2 linked regions of the Homo sapiens genome follow. The protein of the gene in region 2 interacts with the protein of the main gene of each other region in a biochemical or structural test. Each region holds a gene or a part of one and is shown on either strand. Other genes may lie near its edges.

The links.
Region 1: of the proteins of RANBP2 (region 2) and SENP1, one has a biochemical effect on the other in vitro, tested with the Homo sapiens proteins (one study listed by BioGRID).

What each region holds. Positions count from the first base shown.
Region 1 is NC_000012.12:48,064,580-48,068,079, forward strand, and holds part of SENP1 (sentrin-specific protease 1), read right to left. Parts: intron 2,387-3,500; coding exon 2,348-2,386; intron 1,102-2,347; coding exon 1,017-1,101; intron 642-1,016; coding exon 486-641; intron 1-485. UniProt on the Homo sapiens protein: Protease that catalyzes two essential functions in the SUMO pathway.
Region 2 is NC_000002.12:108,760,982-108,764,481, reverse strand, and holds part of RANBP2 (E3 SUMO-protein ligase RanBP2), read right to left. Parts: intron 2,382-3,500; coding exon 2,287-2,381; intron 1,246-2,286; coding exon 1-1,245. UniProt on the Homo sapiens protein: E3 SUMO-protein ligase which facilitates SUMO1 and SUMO2 conjugation by UBE2I. Involved in transport factor (Ran-GTP, karyopherin)-mediated protein import via the F-G repeat-containing domain which acts as a docking site for substrates.

The DNA.
Region 1 (3,500 bases), on a different chromosome or scaffold from region 2:
TTTTCAATATTTTAAAAATAAAGCCCAGATTGGTATATAAAATAAGCGAAAGCTGAAATATACAAGAAAATTTAAATAACACGTGTTCTATGGCTTTTTGTGTGTGTGTGTATGTGAGATGGAGTCTTGCTCTGTCACCCAGGCTGAAGTACGGTGGCATGATCTCGGCTCACTGCAACCTCTGCCTCCCGGGTTCAAGCAATTCTCCTGCCTCAGCCTCCTGTGTAGCTGGGATTACAGGTGCATGCCACCACACCCAGCTAATTTTTGTATTTTTGGTAGAGATGGGGTTTTACCATGTTGGCCAGGCTGGTCTCGAACTCCTAACCTCAAGTGATCCACCCGCTTCAGTCTCCCAAAGTGATGGGATTACAGGCGTGAGCCACCGTGCCTGACCACTATTGCTTTTATGTTTGAAACTCATCCGAGGGATTCTTTCTAAACATGATACTTAGTAGTGTAGAAATTAAGTGTATGTAACTTACCTCTGTAATTTCAGGAAATTCATCTTCACTATCAGTTAATTTATGACCTTTTTTTTGTGTTTCTTGGACAACAGTAACAGGAATCTCCTTTTCAAGAGGTACACGAAGATGTAGTTCTACTGAATCATGTACTGAATGTTCCCGCTCCTGCAATCTCTGAAAGATAAAACTTCAGAGTAAGTGGGATAAAGAAATCTGTGGATGTTCCTTGATTTATGATAGGGTTATGTCCCAATAAACCTGTCATAAGTCAAAGAGCGTGCTTAAATGCCCATTGCTTTCGCTTTTTTGTAAAGTCAAAAAATCATTAGTCGAACCATCACAAGTAGGGGACTATCTATATTTGTCTTATGTACAATGAGTAGCACTGACTGGACAGACCAAGAACATTTACGACATATCATAACATGCTATGCTACCATACGATCTTGGAATTACAACAGCAATTACCCAAATCTGGGTAACTTTCCAAAATAGTTTCTACTTTGATGTACTATTTATTTGTAATATTATTCCAATTTTCTTTTTTACCTGGTTTTGAAGCTGTAAGGCCAATGCCTTCTGTTCTTCAATCTGGCGCAATCTTTCTCGTGCTCGAGAATCATAAACACTAGTTCTAGAAAATGAAAAGGAACGTGACCAAATGTAGACCACTCTCATTATGAAACATATTGTTGATGTACACTGAATATTAAATACAGGACCCTCACAAAGAAAGTCTAAAATCCTTACACTAACTTATCATCCTTATTTTAAGACATAGAGTGAAACCACATAATGTTACTGAAATTACTCTACCATTTTTACTTATTATTTTTTATAGAGATAGGGTCTCACTACAGTGCCCGGGCTAGTCTCAAACTCCTGGGCTCAAGCGACCCCCCTACCTTGGCCTCTCAAAGTGCTAGGATTACAGATGTGAGCCATTGCACCCGACCTATTTTTACTGAAATTACTAAAAATATTAGTGTGCTGCTAAATGTGAACAGATGACTTGTTAACATTTGTAAACACACAGTTCTTTTCTTAACATGCTTTTAAGATTATAGTGAAAGCGAAACTTCAGTCTGGAAATCCAAAAATGGGATTGAACCCTAAAGGAGAAACGAATACAAGATATCACTGAAGTTTAATTCAAATACTTCATTTTTGATAGATTTTTAAAAAATTACCGAGACCGAGGGGTTTGGATAACTTAAGTTCCTTAAGTGAGACTAAATGCTTTCAGTGATTTTGCAAAGTCCAGAAATATGAATTATTCAATAAATTAGTTTTACAAATGCCAAAATAGGATCATTTATTTTCCCTATTATATAATAGCTAACTCTATTTTTCCAATTTAATTTAGCTTCAACAATTGTTATAGATTTAATAAACATAAGTATAGAAATGTTCCAACTCCAACAATATTTTGAAAACCCAACAACTTAAAAGTATAAACAGGCACTTCTTTTTTTTTTTTTTTGAGATGGAGTCTTACTCTGTTGCCCAGGCTGGAGTGCAGTGGCGTGATCTCGGCTCACTGCAACCTCCACCTCCCAGGTTCAAGCAATCCTCCCGCCTCAGCCTTCCAAGTAGCTAGGATTACAGGCGCGTGCCACCATGCCCAGCCAATTTTTGTATTTTTAGTAGAGATGAGGTTTCACCATGAAGGCCAGGCTGGTCTTGAACTCCTGACCTCAGATGATCCACCTGCCTCAGCCTCCCAAAATGCTGGAATTACAGGCGTGAGCCACCGCGCCCAGCCTAAACAGGTACTTCTTATTGGCAAAAAATAAGCAGGATGATTAGCTAATTGTTTGATTTCTTCTAACTAAAAATGAACTGATTGAGAAGGAAAAATGATACCAAAAATAACTTACAATTCTTTGATCCACAGCTCTGCCTGGAAGAAAGTAGAACTATGGGTAGGAAAAGAAAAATTTGACAAATGAGCAGGAGGCTTATGAGAAAATTAAAATATTTTCATCAATAAAAACAATCATTTAAATTGTTTATATGAGTGCTTTACAAGTATGGAATAAGTAAAAGGAATCTAAATGACATAAAATAATTGTAACTAGGAATTAAGGAGACACAATCCTTATGCATACATATTAGTTAAAATCATATGGATACATATTAGTTAAAAAGGTGACCCAAAGTTCAGCAGAGATACTACATTTGGCATAGCTCCCTACTTGCATGAGACCAACATTACGTGAAAGAGGACATCACTTCTCAAAATAATACATTAAGCTAGAACATTGCTCTTCCCAAATGACTCAGATTGAAAGATTTATTAAAAATCCCCACACACAAAATAATCTACATCAAATGGCTAACAAGCCAATGAGCCAAAGCAGAGAATCAGCAACACAACTTCCTTCCAAAGATGACAGGCCAATTCTAGGTCCATGTGGCTCTGCTGACAACCCAAGTGATATGCTGAGCAGAGCCACAGACATGATTAATTGTCCTAGAGCCTCTTGTTTTTCTCAAACTTCCTTATCTCCAAACTCCTAACTAGGCAGGATCTATCACAGAAACACAAAGAAGAAGAGTGAACACTTTTCCAAAGAAAACTATTAAATATAGAGAACAAGTAAACAGAGCATCAAATTGGGAGTTAAGAGACCTGGATCAGAGGCCAGGCATGGTGGCTCATTCCTGTAATCCCAGTGCTTTAGGACGCTGAGGTGGGAGAATCGCTTGAGCCAAGAGTTCAAGACCAGCCTGGGCAACATAGTGAGATTCTGTCTCTTAAAAAAAAAAAAATGATCTGCAACTAGAATAGTGCTTGGCACAGAGTAGGCATTTAGTGTTGTTTGTTTGTTTTTTGACTCTCACTCTGTTGCCCAGGCTGGAGTACAGTGGCACAATCTCGGCTCACTGCAACCTCCACCTCTCGGGTTCAAGAGATTCTCCTGCCTCAGCCTCCTGAGTAGCTGGGATTACAGGCACCCGCCACCACACCTGGCTAATTTTTTCTTTTTTTTATTTTTATTTTAGTAGAGACGAGGTTTCACCATGTTG
Region 2 (3,500 bases):
CATGGCTACATTTGTTCCTGGGGCTTTTAAAATGCTCTGGGCTTCTTCAAACTTGCATTTAAAAAGTGCTGCTTCCTCAGGAGTTTTGAACCTAATAGCAAGTTGTTCTGGTTTTGGCAACTCATCTGCATAATCAAGGGCATGCCATACAAAAGATCTGTCTGATCCAGCATTTGGTGTCAATTTCATATCTGGACTGATGTAATGATTTGCACAGATTTTCAATACTTGCTCTCGTCTCATTAGAAGGCGAATTTTACCAGATGTTTTATGCCTCAGTATTTTTACATTGCCAATCCCACGTTCTTTCCATTCTTTGGATTCTACATCGAAACGAAACAATTTCGCGCGGTTGCAAAAGAATTCTTCTTCATCTTCCTCACCAGTTTTTACTTCAATCTTATCAGGAAGAGGTACTACAGGCTCAAAGTGAGGACCGTCATCATCATCATCCCCATGGGCACTTCCTCCATCTGTCTCATGATTCTTGTTTGCTGTCTCTAAAGTGGGTGTTCCAAATACTGATTTCCCTGGACCATGGAAAGTAAACATATCATCACTTCGCCGAAAACCAGAATTCTTTTGCTGACTCGACCCCATGTTTTCTGTAAATGAAATTCCAGACACATTTTTGCTTCCAAAATTGAATGTATTTCGAGGCCCAATGGTTTGACCACCAGGAATTGGTTTGGCTCCACTATAGCCATCTCCTTGCAAGGGTTTATCTGAAGTCAGGAGACCTAAAAGGCTTTCACTGTTACTGTAAGCTGCAGGAGGGGGCTGTGTCACAACCTGTGGTGAGGAAAACGTGAAGTCACCATCATTTGATTTGAAATTTGAGTTAAATTTAAAAGGAGTTGGCTGTGTTGTGTGTGCTTGTGTTGGCAAAGATGGCCTTAATCCTTCACCCGGCATGGGCTGAACAAAATTAGTTTTCCCAAATTCTATAGTCTTAGATTCTGCAGATCTTGAAGCATGAGCTGCAATCGGAGGTTTTGTGAAATATCCTGGTTCTGGCAAAGGTGGATTTGTGCTTGTCTGTTGAACATTGTAATTAAAGTAATCATCACCCCTGGGCGATAGAATTCCCGTTGCAGGAGACTCAAAACGCAATGCAGGAGGACCATACATCTCCTGAGAGAACATACAAGCAGATGAGCTTTGCACTGGCGGTGTGTGCATCTGTTGCGGATAGGCATAAATATGCTGTTGGGGTGGAAGCCTATTCATGCCATAGACTGGGCCCTAAAAGACAGAAAGTTAAAACATTTTGTAGATTGTCTACAAAACTACAGATAACTAAATGCAAACCAATTCTCACAAACTTCAAACATGAATATGAAGTGAAGAAGATCTCATTAGGGGATGTAGTACACATCATTAACCCGTTTATGCCAGAGGCTGCAAATTTTCTGTGTGAAAAATCAGACCTTGGCAATGACCTTGAGCAGTAGGATATAAATAACTCCCATAAGCTTAGTGTTCCAATAATGGAGCACTAGGCATAAGTAGGTTAAGAGAAAACCACATTACTACAAAGATACTTGCATATATACTTGGCATATAATGAAAATTATGTATAGCATCTTAAAATCTACAGCTAAAGTCATAAAATAAATACCTTCTTCATTCCTAATTTATCAAATGATGTTAATGATGATGATGATGATGATGATGATGATGGTAACATTTATTGAGCATTTATTAATGTGCCAGCTGGGCACTGTTCTAAGCACTTTACATTATTATCTCATTTTAATATCCTCAAAAACCCTATGAATTAAGGTATTATTATTATCCTCATTTTACATATGAGGCAACTGATGCATTGAGAGGTTAAGAAACTTGCCTGTGGTCAAAATAAGCAGAAGAGCAAGGGTCTAAATGCACCCCAACACTCTGTCCTCAAAGCTGTCACATTCAACTACCACTGTAATATTGAGTCTTCAATCAATTGTTATATATATAGCTGTATCAGGCCTGAAAGTACTTACCACATAGTGGGTCAGCAAGGGCATTACAGTTCTATTTCTGTTAAAACAGAACGATGAAGGATCCACCACCACCACTCCCATTTTTAAAATATTCTAAATATTCACACTTATTAACACAAAAATAAGGTGACTAAGAAGGATAATTTCTGTATTTGGAGATAAATTTAAAATATCTACATTTTAAGGGACATAAAAGTTTTAATAGTGAACTGCTCTCTTGAATTTATTTGAAGGAACCCTAAACAATTTAAAAAGGAAATAATTATAAATGTATAAATTATTCCTTTGTTACCTTTGTGGGAGTAACATTAGCTGCTGGTCTGAGAAGATACTGGGAATTATATGCTGGTGACTGACTATAATATACTGAAGGGCCAGTAGTTGCAACTAAAAAAACAAAAAGAAAATAAAGAAAACACTGTTAAAGTCTATACTACAGTTAAGACTATCTAGGCAAGAGCTATAAATACAAAGGCAATAGAAATTAAAGAAAGATTTAACTACATAAATTTTAAATTTCTGTACATCAAAATACACCAATCAAGATTATCAAATGACAAACTAGAAAAAAACTGCTAAATATGACATGAAGAATAAGAGAATAGCATTGCTGTGATCAACAAGAACAACTACCTCACAAGCATTAAAAAAGGAATAAAGAAGAAAGTAACTGTTGCCTTTTCTAAGAAAGATCAGTATGATGTGGAATTATGGACATTCAGTCACAGAAAGGACGTAAGGAACCAAGATGCCATCTGATGGTCAATGCATTTGAAGTGGGCCTAGAAAATCTGCAGAAAGACTAGGTTGTATTTTGTAAACTAAAGCTATTACTGAGAATGTTCAGCTCAAAAATCACCTGACAAATTCATGGACAGGATGTCATAAATAACATAAAATGTGTTCCCTGGCTTAAAATAAAAAGCACATCAACACTCATGCTGATGTACAAACTGTCTGCTCCCTCTGTTTTGTGTGTTTTACCAGGAAACAAAATGACTAGAAGGCACCCATGTTAATGGCAAAACTACCAATAGTCATTTGCTTGAACTGTTTTATGATAGTTTTACCAGAAAACAACCAAAAGACCTTTTATGCCTGTACATGGAAAAAGAAACAGAAACTGTGCCAAGAGGTTCCAAACAATTGCCTCTGGAAAGCACTGAAAAATCAAGACCTAGAAAAGGCTAGCCAGAAGCCCAAGTTTGATTTTGGAAACCTTACAGAGGTGAGGATAGCTATTTTGAAATTACTATGGGGAGGAAGCAGGCACAGAACACAGAACAACCTGACAGAAATGGCCCAAGAATCTTAAAGTCTTGCAAGATGTCTGTCTGCATGAAAGCAAAAAGAAAAAATAAAATATTAAATAAAAAAAAAATCTTAGTCTGAAGTTTAAGTAGGGACTTTAATTGACTACTGACTCTAAACTGTGCGGCTCTAATAAATCTACTAAAAGTAATCTAACTTTTAAAAGCACCATATGAATAGACAATTTAGGAAAGA